Linked DNA regions of Homo sapiens: regions 2 and 3 are each linked to region 1. The links come from fine-mapping of genetic effects on gene expression. A gene starts in region 1. Each other region holds a variant in brackets. All regions are shown on one strand. Distances are between the middles of the regions.

Region 1 (8,274 bases):
TTATTTTAATCTTCCGCCACACTTTTCCAGGTGATCTGAGGAAAGCGGGAACTGTCATGTAGTTAACAAGGGCAGGGGGTGGCTGGGCGCGGTGGCTCACGCCTGTAATCCCAGCACTTTGGGAGGCTGAGGCGGGCGGATCACGAGGTCAGGACATCGAGACCATCCTGGCTAACACGGTGAAACCCCATCTCTACTAAAAATACAAAAAAATTAGCCAGGCGTGGTGGCAGGCACCTGTGGTCCCAGCTACTCGGGAGGCTGAGGAGAGAGAATGGCGTGAACCCGGGAAGCGGAGCTTGCAGTGAGCTGAGATTGCGCCACTGCACTCCAGCCTGGGCAACAGAGCAAGACTCCGTCTCAAAAATTGAAAAAAAAAAAAAGAAGAAGAAGGGGAGGGGGAGTTGTTACAGGTAGCTCCCAGCCCTGACCCAATCGCTGACACAGGTCAAGCCACTTCTGTCCGCTGTGCTTCCATGTGACTCCTGTAAAATGTGATGGTAGGACTGATGTGGAGGATGGCAAGGATGACAATGTGACACTTAATCTTTATAAAGCAGTGTCAGCCTTAGACTCCGAATTTACGAAGATCATCTAATGTAATCCACGAGCTCCTCGGGAAGTGAGTAGAATAAGAATCCCCATTTACAGGTGAATCCACTGGGACTTCACAGAGATAAGTGACTTGCCCAAGATCACCAGCTAAGTTACATTAACCGCAGATGGCCTCCAGAGACCAGGGCCTCAAACACTCCATTTTACGTCACTTTAAAAAAAACCACTGAAGTCACCTTCTCATCACTCTGTGATTCTTTAACTCTTTGGCTTTCTTTTCCTGAAGGGACAGGGTATAAATTGCAGACTTCAAAGGCTTTGAAGGGGCAGTGGTTTTACTGAAAACTTACTGCAGGCTTCTGGAAGTGAGTCTGAGGCGCACTTATGGGGAAATGACATCATGAGGTTTCATAGCCTGGCTTCCCCACAGGTGCTCCCCTGGGGGTTTCGGGAGCCTGACAATAGCTGGCTTTTCTTCCAGCTCCGGGAGCATCTTTTCTGGCAGGTGGAAATGTAATATCACGTGGTCAGAAGGAAGGGCTCCTACTTGGATGGTGAGACTAGGATCTAGTAATTGCCAGGAAGATTCTGGGTGGTATTTCTTCACTGTGAAAAGTAGACTCCAATTCTTTAACTCTCGTATTCTATAATTTTAAATTAGGTAAATTTAATCGCTCGCTTCTTGGCTCAGCGTTACTACAAATTAAACATGCAAGTATTAATATTGAATATAATGTCCCTTTAAACAATATCCTGAAACTCGTTGTGGGGCATTTCCAATATATCCATAAAGCAAATAAAACAACTTAATTGTTTGTTTCTCTAAGGGAAGGAGCTAAACCCGAAATTAATTTAGTTCGGCCTGTGAAACAATTCGTTTGCTCTGCCTAATTCTGCCAATTTAAGAACTTTTCCCAGACACAATTAGCATGTAAATCGGCGGCGGGGAGCGAAGAAGGAGCCTCGGCGACCCCGGTTGGGTGGAGCGCGGGACAAAAAACCCCGGAGGCCGAAGGGTCCGGAGCTTCGAAGGGGCTGCAGTACCGCGCCTGGGGCGCACGGACGAGCCAGGGGACCAGCTCACACTGACCCTGCAGTCATCAGCCAAAATCTGGGTGTTAAATAGCGCAGCCGGGGATCCAGCCGTCTTGGCCGCCAGATCCTTCTCCTAACCCCGCGGGATTCTGAGGAGACGTCCTGGAGCCGGCCCCCACCCAACCCGCGGGAAAGCGCAATCCTACCCACCGCCCCACACTCCCCAACCCCCTCCCGAGGCTGGCTCTTGAAGCCGCGGGGGCTGCGCGCGCACCTAGGGCCGCGCCCCCCACTACCCCAGGTCTATAGAGGCCTTTGCCCGAGAAAGGTGGGGATAGCGGCCCCTGCTGACAGCTCTGGAGAACAGCAGGGGTACTGATTTTTTCTTTTTTTCCTACCATTCTCCCTACCTTTTCCAGGTGGTGGTAGTGGTGCGGGGGGAATGGGTGTTGACCCATGTGCATTTATTCTTCGTGAAGCCTCTTAAGCAGATGTCTGTACTTAGAGAAGCGACCAAAGAGGGAACGTGGACTTATTAGTGGTCTTAGTCCCAATTAGGGAACAGGTACAGTTTCCAATATAAAGAAACTCGGCCTAAGTGGGACTGAGACCCCGATCTCCGCACTTGCTTTTCTCAGCCAACTCCATGACTAGTAAATATCTCTCCGAGAACTGCTGGGCCGCCCGATGTTACTTTGTTTAAAGGTTGCGACTAGGATCCGTACCATCTGCGAAGCCCCCTTGGGGAGCAAGAGCCGCGGCGCGCAGTTGATTTCGGGGCGCAGCGGCAGGGGGAGGGGAACGTGGTGTGGCCCGACGAGTTGGCACAAGCCTGTAACTGCAAGACTTTGTAGCTATTGAAAGTTCAAGTGGTGAAAGAAGGCTGTGCCTGCCATTCTTCATGTGATCATAACAATAGCGCCTTGGAAGTGGTTGCGATTTTCTTCTTCCATAAACCTTTTGGGTTCTCACTGGAATTGTATGCGTGTTATTTCTGAAGTTTACTTATTTCTAAGACCAGTCCACAAAATGTGAACTTCATTAAGTTTTAAAATAGATCGCCGTCGTTAAAAACGCCATTCTCTGCACTGTAGTTTATTTGCTTACTTCACATGCTTTATTAACGTGTGTATGTGCGTAATTAATAGCTGTGTTCTTATCTTCCAAGTGTATTTTTAACCGCACCGGCTTCTATCCAATTCATCTAACTACGTAGAGCGTCCATCGCTTCTGGAATCTACCTCTTGATAACAGTAATCAGAATCAGAAAAGCTCGCCGTTCACTTACCCTCATCCTTTAAAACTTTTCCATTTAAGAAAATCGATGAACAAAACCTTTCTTGTAACTCGCTCCTGCACTACGTCTATTTTTATTTATTTTTCTGATTTGGCAGGACTCAGCAATGCTGTCCGGGATTTTTTTTTTCTTTTTTTTTTTCCTAGCTAGAGCAGATGTGGGGGTGGGGGAGGTGAGGGCTGGGCTCCAGCCAGAGTCGCCCCCGCTGAGCCTCCGCCTAGCGCGCGGTGGGGCCAGGAATCCTGGTGGAAGGAAGCGGCGCTGGCCAGTTGGTCCAAGGCTCCACCTGCAGCCACACCGCGTAGTTTCTCCGCCTCTGCCTCGCTCACTCGCACTCACATACACCACAGCTCTCCTTTGGGTCGGAGGAGACGCCAGCCAAAGTAGGCGGAGTTGCGGAAGGAGAGTCCGATCTGCGCAATCCAGTCCGGGACTTGGCTCCGCCCGGGAGCGGCGGCCTCTCCGGTGACAGAGGAGTAGTGAGCGGCACGGGGTGAGGCTGCAGCCAACTCCGCTCCCCGCGCACTCGGCTGCCCAGGCGCTCGGAACCCAGCAGCGGCGCTCCTCCGCGGTGCCGGTCGCCCGCGATGCCCGCTTAGCAGCGTGTAGCAGCGGCCAGCATCACCACACCCGCGGCACCGCGCTGCCGGCCGCAGAGCCGGGCCAGAGCCTTGCACCCCTGCCCCAGCCCCCACCCCGCCCCCCGCCCTGAAATGACTTGTTAATCGGCGCAGACACCACCAAGGGGACTCACCGAAGTGGAATCCAAGTGGAATTTGGATTTGGAGAAGAGTTTCTTGAACATTTACCCTCTTCCTTGTTGGTTTTCTTTTTCTTTTTCTTCTTTTTTTTTTTGGCTTCTTTTTTCCTCTCCCCTTCTCCGCTCGTCATTGGAGATGAACACATCGCGTTTGCATCCCAGAAAGTAGTCGCCGCGACTATTTCCCCCAAAGAGACAAGCACACATGTAGGAATGACAAAGGCTTGCGAAGGAGAGAGCGCAGCCCGCGGCCCGGAGAGATCCCCTCGATAATGGATTACTAAATGGGATACACGCTGTACCAGTTCGCTCCGAGCCCCGGCCGCCTGTCCGTCGATGCACCGAAAAGGTACGCCCCGGGCGCCCGGGCGCGCCCCACCTCCCGGGCAGCTGGACTCCAGCCTGAGGGTCCCGGGGCCGTGGCTAGCGCGTGCTGTCGGCTTTGTGGTGCCTGCGTTTTATTTTGTCTTGTGTCTCTGTTTCCCGAGCCTTGCCCGGTCCTGGGGGAGCAGCCGTGAGCCCTGCCTGCCTTTCCTCTCTGCCCTGCGCCCCAGAGTGCGTCCGGCTCCACGTCGAGAGCTTTCCCACCCGCGTTGCGCACACGCCCGGCGCCGCCCCGGGCCGCGACGGCGCGTATGGCTGTTCCTCCTGGGGGTGTGTGTGCGAGACCCAAGGCTCATCCTCCCGCGTGCCCAGCAGGGAGCAGAGCGGGCCCTAAATGGTGGGATTCTCGGAAGCTCCCTGGCCCGGTGTGTCGAAGGCAGGGGAAGGGGTTCTGCCCTCGAGGGCTGGAGGGGGTTGGGTATAACAGCGCTGTTTTCGTCCAGTGCCAGGTGGGAGAAGGGGTTCCGCGGAGACGGTGTGGAAGCGGAGAGAATCTTTTGTTGTCAGTGTGGGGTCTGGGCTGGGCTCCGTGGAGTGCAAGAAACTTGTAATGGCTCTAGGCACCCGCGCGCCCTGTCTCTCGGTGAGATCCTGGCTCCTGTGGCCGCTGCCACCAGAGGTTCCGGGCTTTGTTTGCTCGAATAAGTGTCCGGGAGCAGCCGTTCGGGTGACGCGGCGCCCCCGCCATGGGTCCTGTCCCCCGCCGCAGCTCCCAACCCGAGCGGCAAGGATATAGCCCGTCGCGGCTGCGTCCCTCCTGAAGCACCGAGCCCTTTGCACCGGGCTGGCGCACGGTACGCCCTCCTCCCAGATCAGCGCGGTCTCGCTCTGGAAAGATGACCCAGGAGGGGGAAGGGTGAGAGACCTGGCAGAAGATGGCCCTGGGTTTGAAACCCAGACTAGGGCTCTGTTCCGACTCCTCACTGTGTCCTAGGGCGCTACCATGGGGGCAATGGGGCGCTGGAGAGTAAGCCGGGCAGTGCCCACCCACCCTGCCTGATCCTTCTGGGGCGGGAAGTGTCTCTTGTCCCGATTCTCCGCGTTTTGCTCAGCTCCTCGCTGTGGGAGATGGTGCAAAACAGGATCCTGAGGTCTCCTCCCTCCTCGCAAGACCCGAGCGGCACGGGGGGAGCCAGGGAGCGGTCCCGGGCTTGTGGACGTCGGGAAAGGAAACAGAATTCCGCTGTTTTTCCCGCTCCCTCGCCGCCCCTCCGCCCAGCGCCTCCTCCCACTTTACAGCGGCGGGGTCACTAGACCAGGCGCTCCTGGAAAGTTTCCCTGAAAGCCAGGGGCGGCAGGCACGACCGGACTGGGGCTCAGCATGTGCAGTCTGAGGGAAGCCGGACCTGGAGGGAATCATGCGGACAGCTCGGGATGCAGCTAGGAGCTAGATCCCGGCCCTTTGGAGAGTGGAACCTCCTGGCCCGCGGTACTTGCTCGACAAGTCGGGGAAGGGATGAATGGGGAAGCAGGACCCCGGAGGCAGGTGCGGCCACTGTGGACAGAGGCTGTGGGGAAGGTGCGTGTGGACACAGGCCGGGGCTCAGTGGCTTGCAAGTAGGCAGCTTCAGGTGCAGAATCCCGAGCCATCTGCTCCCTGCGCACGATTTCCCAGCGTGGCTATCCAGGGAGGGAGGAAGCAGAGCCAGGTGTGCGTGGAGCGGGAGAGGAATGGGAGACTGGAGGCGCTGTCTTCACAGCCGGGGCAAGCACTTCCAGGGAGTCTCCGGCCTGTATCGCACTGGGGAGCCCTGCAGGCTTTTTCGCGTCGGTCTTTGGGAGAAAGGTGGCTGCTTTGGAACTGCGGTGGCCAGGCACAGCCACAGTGGGATCGCTCCTTTTTTTACGCTCAGCTTTTTTACGCTACTGAATGCGATCTGTGAAAGGTTTAAAACACAGGCGTGCATGGACACACACACGCACACACTCGCCCTTGTACGCACAACTTTCTTTACCTCAGATCTGAAAAGCCGTTTAACCCACTTGCAGTGTTGTGCCAGCAGGTCTCAGAAAAGCTATTTAATGCCCCCCAGCGCTGGTTTTTAAGTCTTGCCAGGATGGGAAGGTCGAGTGCCTTTGCCTTGTCTTTCTTTAGTCCTGAAATTGTTCGTCGTCCTTCCCCTGGTGGACACATCTTGGGCATCAAGTCTGTGGTATGCTACAGTGATGGCGGGGAGGACTGGTGGTTTAATTAATTATTTAATTATGTTTTCTCCCCAAAGTAAAGATGCCTATGTTTAATTCTGACTAAAAATACTCTACACTTTTTTATACCGTACCCAAATGGCTACCAGCGGTCAAGATTGCAAGAATTTTGTATGACTTTTTAATGCTGTGTTTAGTCTACATGGAGCAGTTTTATGATTTACAGTAAGCTTTGATTAAACTACTCCAGGCACCAAAGTTAATTATTAACCTAACCTTAAATACAGTGGCAGAACTATGTCTCCACCTATTAACCTAAACTATCTATTAAAAAATAATTGCACTAGCTATTTGAATTTGGTTTACCCATGCTTGTTTGTATGGTAACTTTTATTTGAATCTTGAGTAACCCTTACTCCCTGTTATTATTTTGGTTTTGGGACGTTCTTGAATGAGGCACTTTGCAAACCAGTTTAAAGCAGAAAAGAACGAACATCAAATTTAAAATCTTACTTTTGGTTATGAGTCATTTTTCAACTTGATGTAAAGAAGCATTCTACTTTATGTTTCTGATGTACAGTGTTTGTGGGTGACAACCTTCCCCATATGTTAGGTTTTGCAGCTATCACCTTTTAGAGATGTGCTACATTTTCAATAACGCATATAATCCACATATGTAAATGTTAAGCAGATACCGAAAATCATTTCTGAGGAGCCATCAGCTGAATATACTTATTGGACATAACAACTAAGCTTAAATAGGTAAAAATTTTATAAGAACCAGTATAGAACACTCAAGTAAATGTCGAATGAATGAAATAAATAGTCACACATGGTTCATGTTTGTCCACTTAAAGTGGACTTCTTTATTTTCCCTACAGTGAAAAAAAAAATATATGCCTTCAAGTGAGTGGTTATGATAAGGCGGCAATAAGTGCACCTTTTTATTTACACACAACACACACCCCTCAAGTTCTTCCAAAATCTAGTAAATGCTTTTTCCAACATTAAACACATATAGCAGTTGTATTTTGAGTAGGCGGGTAACATTGCACTAGTGAAGTCTAATGTGTTGAATCAGAAGTGTAGCAAGAATTAGGAAGACTGTTATCTTCACCAAATAAAAATGAGGCATCCAAATTAAGAACTTGTATTAAATTCAAAATAAGTAGTTATGCTTTAAAAGTAAATGGGTAGTTGCACTCCTATATGAAATGGAAGGAAAAATACTATTTTGAACCAGGAGTTAAGTCAGATAGTTTATTCTGTGTACATTGTGGTTCAGCGCTTTTCAGAACAGGACAAAAGAGTGATGATGGGATGAAAGTTTTTTTAGAACTAGATTGCCAAGAGCTAATATAGTCTCTCCATCTTATTTGTTTGCAGGAAGGAATCACAGAACAAGCTAAGCTAATTGCAAATGCTTTAATTAAGCATCTGCCATTTGTGTAAGGCAATGCCTAGGAAAGCCTATCTCTGCACTGCCCCTCTCCACACCCTTCTTTAGGTTTAGACAATTTTCTGTCCTCCTAGAGTAGAGGAGTGCTCCTTGACATATTTATATAGAAGCTTTGTGTTATGGCAGCCACATTTGTGCATGTTGAGGAAGGTGATGCCTTGAGGCGTTCTGCTGGGCCCTCCCATATCAGGAACCCCCCCCACTCTCTTGGGGTGCCTTGGAGCCAAGTTTTCTCTGAGATATTTCTATTTCAGCGTGAAGGCTTTTCTCATCTGCTTTAAAATGTGCTGCAAGAGCAACTGAGCTATTCTCTGCTGGCGACCACATGGTTGCCTCTTGGGGATATGGTAAGATAGAGAAAGGAGGGAGGCATTTAATCCCTTCGAAATGGGCAAATGAGATGTCATACCACACAAACCTCAAGGGGAGGAGTTCAGGACAACTTCTCACCATGGGACTACTGCATATAGTCTATACACAAGGGTATCTTGCTTTGTGAAACAGATGAGCTCTTGCAAAACTTTATTACAATAATTCCATTTACACCAATAGAGGGTATCATATAAAACCATAATACACAGATGATTCCCAAATAACCTCTTCAGCTTAGACCTCTCTCCTGGACCTCACAAATAACCA
Region 2 (8,000 bases), 400 kb after region 1:
CATAACTTTTGGAATGACTTCAGATCATAGCTGAAGAGGTAAAAATTAAAAGCTACCAAAAGTGAATGGCAAACACTAAGTACTTCATTATAGAGGATGAAATAGTCTTTTTTAAAAAAAGCTATTCATAATGTGATGGCTGAAAATAAAATCTAGCTCTTTGTAAGTATATTCATACTAACTGTATAAATTAAGTTGCATGATCCAGTTCACCAAAATAACATAGAAAGTAAAATGTTAAAAATCAGGAAATTCCAAAGTTTACACTTCTACTCTAATACTAACTTGCTTAAATTGGCTTATATAACACTTTAAAGGTGTATATATAACTGGAAAATTGAATATAACTAAACTCATAGAAATAACGCTGATATATCACTGCTAGAGGAAGTATAACTTAGGAATTTCCTGATTTCCAAGAACTGCTGTTTAATGCCAAGGCATTCATACAATTTTTTTCATTTGTAAACTACTTCAAAAATGGAATAAATATGAAACAACAGGCAGCTGTTAGATGAATTAAGATTATATGACTTTACCTTAACCTTAGTATTTACTACCTAAACATTTTCATTATATATTAAAAGATAATATACAAACAGAAAAAAGGGTTATATGTGTTAATTTACATTATTATGAATCTCAGTATTCTAATACTGCCATTATTTTAAGCAGTTTAAATTTTATAAACTTTACATGAGCAAAAGTTAAAGATCTGATTGTGTTACATAAAATTATTAAAGACATCCTCTCATATTGTCAATTCTTGTATTAGTCAAATTTTTGCAAGAACACTGAAATTTCATCGTATTTTTTGTAATTAAAAAGCATGAAGAATTCAAGCTCCAAAATCTTACTATCTCAGATGAGGAAAGGTTAGTAATATTTTAATTTTAACCCACATCTATGCACAGCCAGGATTCAGAAGCCCTGTGCTGCTCTTCTCCATGCCTCTTAGCCTGGTTCAGGGCTGTTGCTCTAAAAGATACCCTGGAGTATGACTTTATAACACAAAACACTGTGAGTAAATCTTTTCGAATAGGAACTCAGTTCTGTTTTCTAAAGTATCAGACTAAAACTCTGTAGGACTGAAGAAAAAACACTTAAATATTTCCGACCTAGGGTAGATAACAGAAAGCAATAGTCTGAGCAAATGCTCCAGATTTCAGGGAGCTCCTATGATTTTGTAGAATCAAAAAGCCAAAGGTAACTTGTAATTCAGGGTAGCACATTTAGAGACAAAGAGGCAGCATCCATATTCCTACAAAACACAATTAGTATCATCATAGTATTTTTCTTCATATAATCACTCGCTCCCTCTGTCTGAGTACTCCTTCCCTCCTATTTATCCCTGAAGCAGTGTAAATAGCTTTCCCACACCTTTAATAATCCAAAGCTTTTCTTTACTTTCCTCTCACACCTCCCTCCAGCCTTACATATTAAATAAAATCTTGCCATAAAAATAGCAGCTGGTAAGCCAATATGGGATGTTTCCTTAACATTCTACACAGTTTACCATATGTACTATAATAAAGTTGCTGGGCTGAAAGATATATTTTTCCAGCCTTTGGTTATTCTTCTGTAAGCTCTGGACATACCACTAAGCAAAATCTTATTTTGGACATCAACCACCAGAAACTGAGTTTAAATATGATAATTCACAAAACAACGGACAGATTTTTTTATTATAATTTAAGTTCTAGGATACATGTGCAGAACATGCAGATTTGTTACATAGGTATACACGTGCCATGGTGGTTTGTTGCACCATCAACCCGTCATCTACATTAGGTATTTCTCCTAATGTTATCCCTCCCCTAGCCCCACACCCGTGACAGGCCCCAGTGTGTGATGTTCCCCTCCCTGTGTCCATGTGTTCTCACTGTTCAACTCCCCCTTATGAGTGAGAGCATGCAGTCTTTGGTTTTCTGTTCCTGTGTTACTTTGCTCAGAATGATGGTTTCCAGCTTCATCCATGATGCTGCAAAGGACATAAACTCACCCTTTTTTATGGCTGAATAGTATTCCATGGTGTATATGTGCCACATTTTCTTTATCCAGTATATCATTGATGGGCATTTGGGTTGGTTCCAAGTCTTTGCTATTGTAAATTGTGCTGCAATAAACATACACGTGCATGTGTCTTTATAGTAGAATGATTTATAATCATCTGGGTATATACCCAGTAAGGGGATTGCTGTATCAAATGGTATTTCTGGTTCTAGATCCCTGAGGAATCGCCACACTGTCTTCCACAATGGTTGAACTAATTTACACTCCCACCAACAGTGTAAAAGCATTTCTATTTCTCCACACCCTCTCCAGCATCTGGTGTTTCCTGACTTTTTAATGATCGCCATTCCAACTGGCGTGAGATGGTATCTCATTGTGATGTTGATTTGCATTTCTCTAATGACCACTGATGATGAGCTTTTTTTCGTATGTCTGCTGGCTGCATAAATGTCTTCTTTTAAGAAGTGTCTGTTCCTATCCTTTGCCCATTTTTTGATGCAGTTTTCTTCATGTAAATTTATTTAAGTTATTTGTAGATTCTGGATATTAGACCTTTCTCAGATGGACAGATTGCAAAATTTTTCTCATTCTGTAGCTAGTCTTTTCACTCTGATGATAGTTTCTTTTGCTGTGCAGAAGCTCTTTAGTTTAATTAGATCCCATTTGTCAATTTTGGCCTTTGTTGCCATTGCTTTTGGTGTTTTAGCCATGAAATCTTGGCCCATGCCTATGTCTTGAATGGCATTGCCAAGATTTTTTCCTAGGGTTTTTATGGTTTTAGGTCTTATGTTTAAGTCTTTAATCCATCTTGAGTTAATTTTTATATAAGGTGTAAGGAAGGGGTCCAGTTTCAGTTTTCTGCACATGGCTAGCCAGTTTTCCTAACATAATTTATTAAATAGAATACCCTTTCCCCATTCCTTGTTTTTGTCAGGTTTGTCAAAGATCAGATGGTTGTAGATGTGTGGCATTATTTCTGAGGCCTCTGTTCTGTTCCACTGGTATATATATCTGTTTTGGTACCAGTACCATGCTGTTTTGGTTACTGTAGCCTTGTAGTATAGTTTTAAGTTAGGTAGTGTGATGCCTCCAGCTTTGTTCTTTTTGCTTAGGATTGTCTTGGCTATACGGGTTCTTTTTTGGTTCCACATGAAATTTAAAGTAGTTTCCTCTAATTCTGTGAAGAAGTTCAATGGTAGCTTGATGGGGATGGCACTGAATCTACAAATTACTTTGGGCAGTATTTTCATTTTCACGATATTGATTCTTCCTATGCATGAGCATAGAATGTTTTTCATTTGTTTCTGTCCTCTCATTTCCTTGAGAAGTTGTTTGCAGTTCCCCTTGAAGAGGTCTTTCACATCCCTTGTAAGTTGTATTTCTAGATATTTTGTTCTCTCTGTAGCAATTGTGAATGGGAGTTTGCTCATGATTTGGCTCTCAGTTTGTCTATTATTGGTGTATAGGAATGCTTGTGATTTGTGCACACTGATTTTGTATCCTGAGACTTTGCTGAAGTTGCTTATCAGCTTAAGGAGATTTTGGGCTGAGACAATGTGGTTTCTAAATATACAATCATGTCATCTGCAAAAAGAGACAATTTTACTTCCTCTCTTCCTATTTGAATACCCTTTATTTTTTTCTCTTCCCTGATTGCCCTGGCCAGGGCTTCCCATACTATGATGAATAGGGGTGGTGAGAGAGGGCATCGCTGTCTTCTGCCGGTTTTCAAAGAAAATACTTCCAGCTTTTGCCCATTCAGTATGATATTGGCTGTGGGTATGTCATAAATAGCTCTTATTATTTTGAGATACGTCCCATCAGTACCTAGTTTATTGAGTGTTTTTAGCATGAAGAGGTGCTGAATTTTATCGAAGGCCTTTTCTACATCTATTGAGATAATAATGTGGTTTTTGTCATTGGTTCTGTTTACGCAATGGATCACGTTTATTCATTTGCATATGTTGAACCAGCCTTGCATCCCAGGGATGAAGCTGACTTGATCATGGTGGATAAGCTATTTGATATGCTGCTGGATTCAGTTTGCCAGTATTTTATTGGGATTTTC[A/G]CATCAATGTTCATCAGGGATGTTGGCCTGACATTTTCTTTTTTTGTTGTGTCTCTGCCAGGTTTTGGTATCAGGATAATGCTGGCCTCTTAAATGAATTAGGGAGGAGTCCCTCTTTTTCTATTGTTCAGAATAGTTTCCGAAGGAAACTCCTCTTTGTATCTCTGGTAGAATTCAGCTATGAATCTGTGTGGTCCTGGGCTTTTTTTTGGTTGGTAGCCCATTAATTATTGACTCAATTTCAGAACTTGTTATTGGTCTATTCAGAGATTCATCTTATTCCTGGTTTAGTCTTGGGAGGTGTATGTGTACAGGAATGTATCCATTTCTTCCAGATTTTCTAGTTTATTTGTATAGAGGTGTTTATAGTATTCTCTGATGGTAGTTTGTATTTCTGTGGGATCAGTGGTGATATCCCCTTTATCATTTTTTATTGTGTCTATTTAATTCTTCTCTCTTTTCTTCTTTATTAGTGTGGCTAGAGGTCTATTTTGTTAATTCTTTTCAGAAAAACAGCTCCTGGATTCATTGATTTTTTTTTGAATGAATTTATTTTTTGAATTGGTTTTTCATGTCTCTATCTCCTTTCGTTCTACTCTGATCTTAGTTATTTCTTGTCTTCTGCTAGCTTTTGAATTTGTTTGCTCCTGCTTCTCTGGTTCTTTTAACTGTGATGGTAAGGTGTCAATTTTAGATCTTTCCCGCTTTCTCCTGTGGGCAGTTAGTGCTATAAATTTCCCTCTACACACTGCTTTAGCTGTGTCCCAGAGATTCTGGTACATTGTGTCTTTGTTCTCATTGGTTTCAAAGAACTTTTTATTTCTGCCTTCATTTCGTTATTTACCCAGTAGTCATTCAGCAGCAGGTTGTTCAGTTTCCATGTATTTGTGTGGTTTTGAGTGAGTTTCTTAATCTTGAGTTCTAATTTGATTGCACTGTGGTCTGAGAGTCTGTTATGATTTCCATTCTTTTGCATTTGCTGAGGACTGTTTTACTTCCAATTATGTGGTCAATTTTAGAATAAGTGCGGGATGCAGTGCTGAGAAGAATATATACTCTGTTGATTGGGGTGGAGAGTTCTGTAGATGTCTATTAGGTCTGCTTGGTCCAGCGCTGAGTTCAAGTCCTAAGTATCCTTATTAATTTTTTGTCCCATTGATCTAATATCGAAAGTGTGGTGTTAAAGTCTCCCACTATTATTGTGTGTGAGTCTAAGTCTCTTCATAGGTCTCTAAGAACTTGCTTTATGAATCTGGGTGCTCCTGTATTGCGTGCATATATATTTAAGAAAGTTAGCTCTTCTTGTTGCACTGATCCCTTTATCATTATGTAATGCCCTTCTTTGTCTTTTTTGATCTTTGTTGCTTTAAAGTCTGTTTTATCTGACACTAGGACTGCAATCCCTTTTTTTTTTTTTTTTGCTTTCCATTTTCTTTGTAAATATTCCTCCATCCATTTGTTTTGAGCCTATGTGTGTCTTTGCACACGAGATGGGTCTCCTGAATACAGCACACCAATGGGTCTTGACTCTATCCAATTTACCAGTGTGTGTCTTTTAATTGGGGCATTTAGTCCATTTACATTTAAGTTTAATTATTGTTTCATGTGAATTTGATCCTGTTATTATGACAGTAGCTGGTTATTTTGCCTGTTAGTTGATGCAGTTTCTTCATAGTGTCGATGGTCTTTACAATTTTGTATGTTTTTGCAGTGGCTGGTACCAGTTTTTCCTTTCCATATTTAGTGTTTCCTTCAGGAGCTCTTGTAAGGCAGCCCTGGTGGTAACAAAATCCCTTAGTATCTGGTTGTCTGTAAAGGATTTTATTTCTCCTTCACTTATGGAATTTAGCTAGGTTGGATAGGAAATTCTGGGTTGAAAATTCTTTTCTTTAAGAGTGTTGAATATTGGCCCCCACTCTCTTCTGGCTTGTAGGGTTTCTGCCGAGAGATCCGCTGTTAGTCTGATGGGCTTCCCTGACCTGTCTCTCTGGCTGCCCTTAACATTTTTTCCGTCATGTCCACCTTGGTGAATCTGATGATTATGTGTCTTGGGGTTGCTCTTCTCGAGGAGTATCTTTGTGGTGTTCTCTGTATTTCCTGAATTTGAATGTTGTCCTGTCTTGCTAGGTTGGGGAAGTCCTTCTGGATAACATCCTGAAGAGTGTTTTCCAACTTGGTTCCATTCTCCCCATCACTTTCAGGTACACCAATCAAACACAGGTTTGGTCTTTTCACATAGTCCCATATTTCCTGGAGGCTTTGTTCATTCCTTTTCATTCTTTTTTCTCTATTCTTGCCTTCATGCTTTACTTCATTAAGTTGATATTCAATCTGATATCCTTACTTCTGCTTGATTCAGCTATTGACACTTGTGTAGGCTGCATGAAGTTCTTGTGCTGTGTTTTTCAGCTCCATCAGCTCATTTATGTTCTTCTCTAAACTGGTTATTTTAATTAGCAATTCCTGCAACCTTTTTTCAAGGTTCTTAGCTTCCCTGCATTGGATTAGAACATGCTCCTTTAGCTCGGAGAAGTTTGTTATAACCCATTTTCTGAAGCCCACTTCTGTCAATTCGTCAAACTCATTCTCCAACCAGTTATGTTCCCTTGCTGGTGAGGAACTGTGATCCTTTGGAGGAGAATGGGCATTCTGGTTTAGGGAATTTTCAGCCTTTCTGCATTGGTTTTTTTCCTCATCTTCATGGATTTATCTACCTTTGGTCTTTGATGTTGGTGACCTTCGGATGGGGTTTTTGTGTGGATGTCCGTTTTGTTGATGTTGATTCTATTCCTTTCTCTGTTTGTTAGTTTTCTTTCTAACAGTCAGGCCCCTCTGCTGCAAGTCTGCTGGAGTTTGCTGGAGGTCCACTCCAGACCCTGTTTGCCTGGGTATCACCAGAGGAGGCTGCAAAACAGCAAAGATTGCTGCCTGTTCCTTCCTCTGGAAGTTTCGTCTCAGAGGAGCACCCGCCAGATGTCAGCTGGAGCTCTCCTGTATGAGATGCCTGTCAACCCCTGCTGGGAGGTGTCACCCCATCAGGAGGCACGGGGGCCGGGGACCCACTTGAGGAGGCAGTCTGTCCCTTAACAGAGCTTGAGGGCTAAACGCACAGCATTTCAATTTATTAGATGGTACAATTTATTTCAATGCATTACATGGTGCAAATAAAACTTGCCAGAACTTCCCCTAGAGTGCTTGTCTATGGAGAATTCCAATTATCCTGAAAAAAATGGGTATGTCTGGCTACTTAGAGTCTTATACTTGTAATTAGAAGATCTGGATTCAAGTCCTTAAGCTCTACAAATAATAGAAAAAGGAACATTGTACATTTTTATAAAAAACAATCTTTGCATCTTATGGTTCAAAATATATTTTCCCTTAAATTATGACCAGTAACAACTCTGAGGAACAACTATCGCCATTTGACAGAGAAATGGACTCAAGTCCATGTGCCAAGGACTAAAACTATAGAAATATTTAAACATGCAAGCTCTTTCGGCCATAGAATGTCTAGGTATGCCACAAGCAATACAGGATAGTTGAGGATGACACTCTTAGTGAGTCTGCCACCATAGCTGACCCACCTCAATTCATGTTACCAAATGTGATTTGACTAAAAAAGGGTAAGATGAACCACCCTCTCAGGGGCAGATAAAGGGTAATCAAGTATTATTAACTGAATTCTTGTATACCCCAAAATTCATGTTATAGCCCTAAACAGCAGTGTAGTTGCATTTGGAGATGGGGCCTCTAAGGAAGTATTTAAGGTTAAATTAGGTCACAAGGGTACAGCACTGATCTGTTAGGATGAGTGCCTTTATAAGAAGAGACACCATCTCTCTGAAGACTAGATTAGAAAATAACAAGGTAAGAAAAAAGAAAAAGAAACAATAAGAGACACCAGAGAGCTCACTCTCTA
Region 3 (8,274 bases), 110 kb after region 1:
TTAGTTGCAGCTGCAACCAAAGAGGCCTTTACTTGTCCAAAAAACAGTCTTGTAAATCAGAGACTGAAAAGCCCAGTTATGTTGCTGAGCTGTTTCTCCCCATTCAGAATTGTTTACTTCTATATGTTTTCAAGAGTTTCATCCAAGCGGGAGTTTGAGTTTCAAGGGCAGAGCAGCCACTGTGACCCTTGGAAGACAGTCGCTATTGCACCCTCCCCCAGAGTGTTCTGCATACATATCTCCATCTTCACTTTTAGACAATGCTTTCCGGTCAGACTCTCAGGCTACATTTTCATCTGCTTTTTTGCTTCTCATCTCCTGAGAGTGCTGGGCACTCTGCTGCTCTATTTGCCAAGTCAAAATATAAAGATGGAGCCCCTTTTGTCTTGTTCTTGAGCGTGTCCTCTTAACTGATTTTATTTTCTTCTATAGACTTCCTCTTAGTAATAAGCCCTGACTCAAATCTTTTTTTTTTTTTTTTTGAGATGGAGTCTTACTCTGTTGCCTACGCTGGAGTGCAGTGGTGCGATCTCAGCTCACTGCAACCTCCGCCTCCCAAGTTGAAGAGATTCTCCCTGCCTCAGCTTCCCAAGTAGCTGGGATTATAGGTGCCCGCCACCATGCCCGGCTAATTTTTGTATTTTTTTTTTTTAGTAGTGACAGGGTTTTGCCATGTTGGCCAGGCTGGTCTTGAACTCCTGACCTCAGGTGATCCACCCGCCTCGGCTTCCCAAAGTGCTGGGATTACAGGCTTGAGCTGCTGCTCCCGGCCAAATCTTTTTTTTTTTTTTTTTTTTTTTTAAGCTGGTTTTGTCTCATCTCCTTCTTTCAGTTTGAGGGATTCCCTGCTCTTTCCATCCCGAGAAAGCTCCAGGTAGAAGAGAAACTGTCCGGACAGATTACAAGCCTTAGCATATGCCATTATTTGTTATGTGTGGCTCCTGACCTCAGATGTGCTAGTCCTGACTGTATTCTCAAGAAGAGAAAACTCAGTAGAAATCACTTTGTTTTTGCCCACTGCGTTTTTTCTGAAACAAAATAAAACAGCCTTTCCAATAAAGCATTAAATATGCCAACTAAATATCTAGCTGTTGGTTGCAGTAATTTTCTTTTCATTTCACTGAGAGGGGTAGCGTGAATTTTCTCTAATCGTTAACTCCCCCCAAGGAATGGAGGTTCTCAAAAAGTCCATTTAACACTTTGACACATCATTTTAAAATTCGGCATTGTTCATTCTCTTGGGTCTTATTATACTGACAAAGCTGGAAGCAGTCTACATATTGTCAAACAATGGTGGCAGAGGTGACTGCATGGGTGTTTAACATGATCACTGTTCTTGTGCTAGTAACTCCTTGCCTTGCCCTGTCAAATTTGAGTTTCTTTTCTGTGATTGGTTGTATGTTTGATGGGGCAATGCCAATGAGTTGTTGTGCAGAAATTTTAAAGAAAAGATGTAGCTTAATGTTCCTTTTATCATAGTTTTTATGATTTTAATTTCCATTTTGCTCCAAATTGTTTTTTGTTTAATGTTCATGATTTATTTTCAACTTTTGTTTCATTTTGCCAAGCACTGTGTTATGACTTAGTGATGGCGTTACTCCGTTGGAAAAGTCTTGTTCCTTTTCTGACTCATGATGGCGTCCCTTAACTTGAACGAATCTGTGATGCCCTCGCTTCTTTTCATTCCCTGATGTCGGTGCCTTAATGATGTCACATCCGTGTATGCAGCATCTCCCGGGATGCAAGAGTTTCATGGGTTTTCTAAGGGCCTGTGACGGGTGCTCTTTCTACTGGGTCGATTGTCTCATGAGAATGTGACATTTGTGTGCCCCAGCTTTAGGAGCTAAATATACTCTGGAATTGTTTCTAAAATCCATCACATTTCCTCACTAAGCAGAAAATGTGCCCGCTGACCAGCTCACTGAGGAGTCAAGTGTCCATTGCCCATTTTATTTTGGCCACTGGTAAAAATGCCAGTGAGCAAGGCATGCCCATGGCTCTACTCTGCAGATATGCTGACTGCCAGTGAGCTGGTCCCATTCTTTGTCCACTTCATCCTCCAAACAATTCTCCATTTCCAGAGTATGTTTGCTGCGTTTTTCTTTCTTTTCCTTGCTATGTCTTTCGTCTTGATTTAATCCTGTGCGTCCCTCACATTCTGTCGAAACACCCTTCCTCACCTTGCAGCCTAACCCCCTTCTGCTACCATTGTTCTTAGCCTCCCCCTTTCAAAATAACAGACCCAAACCCTCTGCCCCTCTGTGGAATGTTCCAAGGCTCTTTCCTTCTACACCGTGAGTAGCATTCTGATGCTGTATGTATATACAGTCATACTAACAAAGCGTGAGAAGAGACCTGCACAGCACGCGGAAGCATTATCATAGAAAATGAAGTAATTTTCTCTCTCAGTAACTGGCCTTGCCCTTCATTACCCTACTGGCCTTGTCTAATGTCTCTTGTCCTTGCTGCTTTTCTTTAAAATTGCCTGATATCTTTCAAGCCCTGGATTCATTAGTAAAAACACAGCCAACTGCTCTGTTTTATCTCTGGTTCTCTAGATGTCTGGAGCCTCTAGAGCGAGCCCTTTAATCACCAAGTTGATAAATGAGATGCAGCCCTGACTACTTCTGTCTTGGTTTTGCCACATTAAAAAATACATATTATTTATTCCTCCTATAACTATTGAGGTCGTAATGGGTAGTTACAAAGGGGCTCTAATCACATATAAATAAGAAAGAAAATCCAGTTTATTTTTAGATCTGGCTTATTCTCCACCACCGCTTCCCACAGCAAAAGAAATAAGAGCTTTCTTTTTTAGGTTAAACAATACTGAGAACAAATAGCTATTCTTGTGCCTCTTATTCCTTACCAAAAGTAACAATACTTTAAAGCTGATTTCCAAGAAGTCTATGAGGTATGTAAGGAAATCAGCCACATCCAGAGCAGCCAAGAGAGCTGTGTAGCATACACATAAAATGTAAATGCTGACCACTGCTATGAGGACACAAGAATATATCCTGAATAGAATAAAAATCCCCTACTTCAGACTTTATTTTATAATAAAGAGTTCTTGTGAGCTCTCAGAAAACAGACAAAATAGTAAATATAGAGCAGTTCCCATTTAATCAGAAATGCCAGAGTTGTAGTATGCTTCTATCTTTTGGGAAATCTTTAAAGTGAGATATTATCACATTATTACATTTAGTCCAGAAAATATGCACATTAAAGACAAGAATAAGATGTATTACAGAAACAGAATTTAAATTAGAGATTAAGTGAATAAGCTAAAATGGATAGCAAATGTTGAATATATTTTAATCAATGTACAAGCTATTTGTATAAGCAGTTTTTAGTTTGGGAAATAATATTCCGGTAAGATTCATAAGATCTATAAAGATGATTAGTATTGTCCACATCTCACAATCCTAAATGGAATTTTATAAATCACAGATGTTATCAATAATTCTCTTTATAGTTAATTATTTAATCTTTAAATTTGCAGTAGCCTACAGCAGTATTTCCTCCGAGGGAGATGAGTAGCACCTTACATGGCATGATTTAGGTGGCAGGGATGTGATGGCCTTCAAGAGTATTGAGTCATGTGGTGGAAATTTATGCCCTTTTCAATGCTCTTTCAGTCTTCTGCGTTATCTTCTTGATTATGTGAAAGGAAAAGTCTCAGTTTGGTGTTTTCTCATTAACAACTCCCTAAACTTGCTACTATCTCTTTTTGACAAAGAGAGAATAGGGTTTACACTGGGGCTTTGTCTTCCAACTGGATCTAGCTGGAATTAACATTGTTTTGCTTTAAGTTAATTTTTGTTTTACTGGTTACATTTTAT[C/T]GTTGAAAAGTGACACTTTTTTTTTATTTGTGATAATGATATCAAGTTTCCCTTTGAAATACATTTTAAAGGTAATTTAAATAGAATATTAAGTAAATAATGCAGGAGTTATGAGGGATATAAAAATACTAAGTAAATAATATGGTAGGTGAGATTCATTGTTATGACTAAAATTGTAGTATTGGTAGTTGAATGACCAAAGTTTAGGTGACTGTGTACTGTAGCAATTGAAGGAGTCCAGGGAAGATTAAACTATTACCAAGAACTTTGTTCTGACATTTGGAAGAATGAGGTTTGATGACCACTATACCCTCTCCTGGCTGGGCTTGCAAAACCAAGTGAATACATGCGTCACTCCAAGTGTTGTAATTATACAATCCAGTGCCCTTCTGATTTCTTTGCTACCTACTGAGCTTTGTGTTTGGGGATGGAAAGTTTCATGAAATAGAAATTTAAAGTAACATGGATTTAGACTAATAAGAAATTAGCCACTCTAGGCTTGTTAAGCATCTGGCAAGTTTTTTCTCCACACCAGCAGCAAGCACCCTAGTGTGGTCTGCCGCTAGTTATTACTCAAATTGTAGCCTAGGGAAAGTTGATGAAAAGCCTTTCCACTTTTCATCTATTTTGCTGATATCCAGAAGGACTCTTGTGCTACACAGTGTTGCCCGGCCTGGCAATAGCTTACCCTTGACCCTTCTCCTTTTCTCCCGTTCAAACTTTACCTATTCTAAGTTCCAAGCCTTCAGTGTCAGCTGTCTTTATTAACAGACTGAGAAATCTCATTTTAGGTGAGTATAGTTAATCATAGATCCTACCCCCTGGTTACTCTTACATTTTAACACTCTCCCATGCTTAAAATGTAATGGATTTGGGATTTTAAAGCACCCTGGTTCTCCCAACACAGAAGGTAATTTTTTGGCTCCTATCAAGTCATATGTAAGTGATTTTATGGACAGAGAAAATTATTCCTGATGACAGTAATAAAGGAAGAAAAATAGGCCTCTCCTCTTTTCCTGACTCTTAAACTTGGGCTTAATTTTCTCTGCCATTTCTTCAGTAATATTACCGTTAACAAAAACATTTTCTGAGGTGTCTCAAGCAGAATTTATCACTGGCTCTGTGGTGCAATTTGGATGCCAATAAAGAGTAAGAGGCTGTATTAGAGATAGACGTAGTTCCTGTCCAAGAAATATCAAACACCAGACAGATGGAACACAGGTAGACACAAAAGCACACCAAAAGGCCTTTATGACCAACATTCTCTTTGTGAAATGCCAAAACCACACACCACAGACTTTAAAAAAATATATTAGACAAGTAAAGACAACTTGGCTGAACACATCAAGGACATAGAACTGTGAAACAGTTTTTCAGCTCCTTTCCTTCAGTTCTTTCCCTCAGTACCAATATTGTAGCAATAACACATCACCTGACAAGGAAGACGAGGAAAGTGATGGATGTTTGGTAAAAGACTCATATTTAAAATTTTTGTGGGAGTGTTGGCAAACTCAGGCTTTTATTTTTTTTAAGCCTAAGCTTTATTTCAAGAAAAAAAAAACTCATACTAATTTGCATTCCTTTTATTAGTAAAAATGATCCTATTGCAGTCGTTTTTAAATGTGAGAGTAGAGCAAGGCAGTTTCAAGGAGACTTCAGAAAAAGGGCTCCTGTCTTGGGGAGTACTAATAATGGGAGGGTAAGGGTTTTCACTTCCACTCAACAATGGAAAATTAACTGAGTCAGGTAGAACGTGCATGGTCAGAGGCAAGGAACGCGAAGAGATAGTGAATTGATTGTGACGGTTCCAAAAACTCTTTTGAATTAGAGATCACTTATTTCTGATTTTGAAGGTTAGAGGAAAGGCATCTTCAAAGTTCGTAAGAAATTTGGTACATAAGCTGGTATTGTTGCTGACTATGAAAAATACAGTTCTTAATATTTAGTTCATCAGTATTTTATTTATAAATTGTGCTATACACGACCCATAAAGATTTATCATAATTTTTATTGCTCTAAACTTTTAGAGATTAAAAAGTTTAATTTTTAGAGAGTAAAGATTTAGCATCATTTTTATTACTCTAAACTGCCTGTAATCTCAGCTACTTGGGAAGCTGAGGCAAGGGAATTACTTGAACCAGGGAGGTGGAGGTTGCAGTCAGCCGAGATCGTGCCACTGCATTCCAGCCTGGGTGACAGAGGGAGACTTTGTCTCAAAAAAAAAAAAAAAAAAAAGAGATTAACAATTTTAACCTCTGAAAGTTTGGGTGGGTTTAAAGAATATTTGTGGGAGTCATTTAAAGCACACTGTTTGGGAAAAGAAGAGTAGGGTTGCTAGGCAAAATACAGGATGCTCAGTTTATTTGAATTGCAGATACACCTGAATAATATTTTTAATATTGAAACAAAACTAAATAATTGTTAGTGTAAATATACCGCAAATATTGCATAGGACATACTTTTAACTAAAACATTTTTGTTTATCCGAATTAACTGAGAGTACTTAAACTTTTTGCTACCTGACAATTCTATAGAAGATGTCACTGATAACTTACTCAGTGAATATATAAGATCTAATTTATATATTACATTTGGCCTTTAACTCTTAGAAATCTAGAATAATCCATATTCTGATATGTTTAAGAAAAAATCTTATTCCACGAAAAATATTCTTAGCATACTTGAGTTCAGAGAATGTCTATGAAATATTATATATGTGTTTGAAATGTGATAAAGAGTAATTTAAAGATTATTATTGAAAACAGGCTTTCAAATGCCACTTTCAAGTAAGGAAGGCTCAGAAATCAAATTGTTCTTAAAGAGGAGCATGGTTAAAACTATTGGTTCTTTTATGTTTTACTTAACCTCAAAATTTTAACAGCTGTTATGTTAACCATATGTATTCCTTTTTCCTTCCTAAATTATATGGCTGCCCTCCTTTTTATTTTTATTTTTATTTTTTTATCATTTTCATGGCTTTGGAGGGGTAGAACTGGAATTCCGAAAGCACTAAAAAATAATAGTTTAATAATGCTGACAATCTCATCTCAAAGAAAGGCAAGACAGCAACCTTTCCTTTGTTTCTTTTTTCCTGCATTCAACAGAAATTGAACAAACATGTGCTATATGTAAACCTTATGCTGAGTGTTACAGAAGATACTAATTTGAATTTCACATAAACCTGATATTCAGACAGCTTACAGTTTAGTGAGGGATACCCAAAGGTGATCTAAATGCTGGGGCAGAGTGAAGTCTGACAGTAAGGGAAGTCAAGGAAAGAGGGGGAGGGAGAGTACTAAGGGAGTCTAAGGGGTGGCACAACTAATTCCAAGTGGGGGACACAGGAAAGACCTTTCAAAGTCTTGAAGGAAAAGTTAGATTTCACAGGAGGAAGGGCATTCCAAGCTGAATAAAGTCCATGACCAAGATACCACACTGTGAAATTACAGAGTGTAATAATAAAGAGGCAAGGAGTGTGTGGTGACTAAGTGTATGGACGACTAGAATGGGAAATGAGATTGAAATCCTAGCCTGGAACCTTAAATGCCATGCCAAGGAGTTTTGGCTTTAGCAACAGGAAGTGGAGGATGGGAAGGTAGACGTTGGGAAGAAAGGGACCACAGGAGGGTAGAAGTGGGGAAAGACAAAGATAGCAAGATTGACAGGTGATACATATATAATAAATTGTTCATTTAATCATATTAGGTTATTAATTACATGTACACAATAAGTTTGGGAAATGGAATTTTGCATCAATTTTGGATCTAAAGTGTCTGTTACTACACATCGCTGGCATTTTCCTGGTAGATGCTTCTTGCCTATCTAGCTCTATCCTAGGTAAAACCCCAGGCAAGCTGAACTCCAAACTTGGACTTCTTCCTCTCTTTAGTTAAAACAGTGGGGTTCAGCTGAGCACGGTGGCTTAATTAATAATATAATCCAGGATGCCACTGTTTATTTTTACTATATTAATATTTCTTGGTCACCTACGAGAAAAGGAATCTATATGTAGTCTCCGTCTTTTCTTTGAGGGACTGAGGAAAATGATATTGTGAGCAAGTCAGGTGCTGGGCTCTCAAATGGATGATGTGGGTTTCCATGTTTGAACGTGTGCAGGGGGAGAGGGTCCAGAGCCGAGAAGCCCAAGTGGCAGGCTGTAATTGTTCTTTCAGTAGTGTGGGCATAGATGTAGATTTGATATAATTAATTTTGTATCCTTTTGACAACTTGCTGAATTTATCTAAGGTCTTGATGAGATTATTGTGGAAAGGGTAGCAGGAAAAAAAAAGTTAAATGTCAGCCATGTAGAAAGCTGTTTCATCTCTCTGCCTGCCTGAATTTGCACACCCGTATTTGAGTTTTCTTTTCTAGGGATACCACTAACCTTTTATTTTTTAACCTAACATTCATTTTCTCAAAAAATGAAGGACTT

Alleles and levels. Alleles are on the strand shown, and positions count from the first base shown. SD is a standard deviation of normalised expression in the study named.
As copies of A replace G in region 2, the expression in fibroblasts of the gene that starts at base 3,358 in region 1 goes down (small effect, 0.26 SD a copy in GTEx).
For the expression in testis of the gene that starts at base 3,358 in region 1, allele C in region 3 goes with a higher level than allele T (moderate effect, 0.49 SD a copy in GTEx).

Evidence for each region.
Region 2: its variant is fine-mapped to the expression of SEMA6A in fibroblasts (GTEx, PIP 0.95).
Region 3: its variant is fine-mapped to the expression of SEMA6A in testis (GTEx, PIP 0.92).

What each region holds. Positions count from the first base shown.
Region 1 is chr5:116,569,907-116,578,180 of GRCh38, reverse strand. SEMA6A (semaphorin 6A) reads left to right here and starts at 3,358. Exons shown (of 19, transcript NM_020796.5): 1 at 3,358-3,996. SEMA6A-AS2 (SEMA6A antisense RNA 2) reads right to left here and starts at 3,763. Exons shown (of 3, transcript NR_147170.1): 1 at 3,642-3,763. RefSeq lists enhancers at 1-26, 27-662, 5,300-6,081 and a silencer at 3,523-3,602.
Region 2 is chr5:116,165,660-116,173,659 of GRCh38, reverse strand. All of the region lies in intron 5 of COMMD10 (COMM domain containing 10), which reads right to left. Among named protein-coding and RNA genes, the nearest start is that of COMMD10, 85 kb to the right of the region's middle. The variant A/G (reference allele first, on the strand shown) is at 4,082.
Region 3 is chr5:116,458,587-116,466,860 of GRCh38, reverse strand. All of the region lies in intron 18 of SEMA6A (semaphorin 6A), which reads left to right. All of the region lies in intron 2 of SEMA6A-AS1 (SEMA6A antisense RNA 1), which reads right to left. Among named protein-coding and RNA genes, the nearest start is that of SEMA6A-AS1, 15 kb to the right of the region's middle. The variant C/T (reference allele first, on the strand shown) is at 3,843.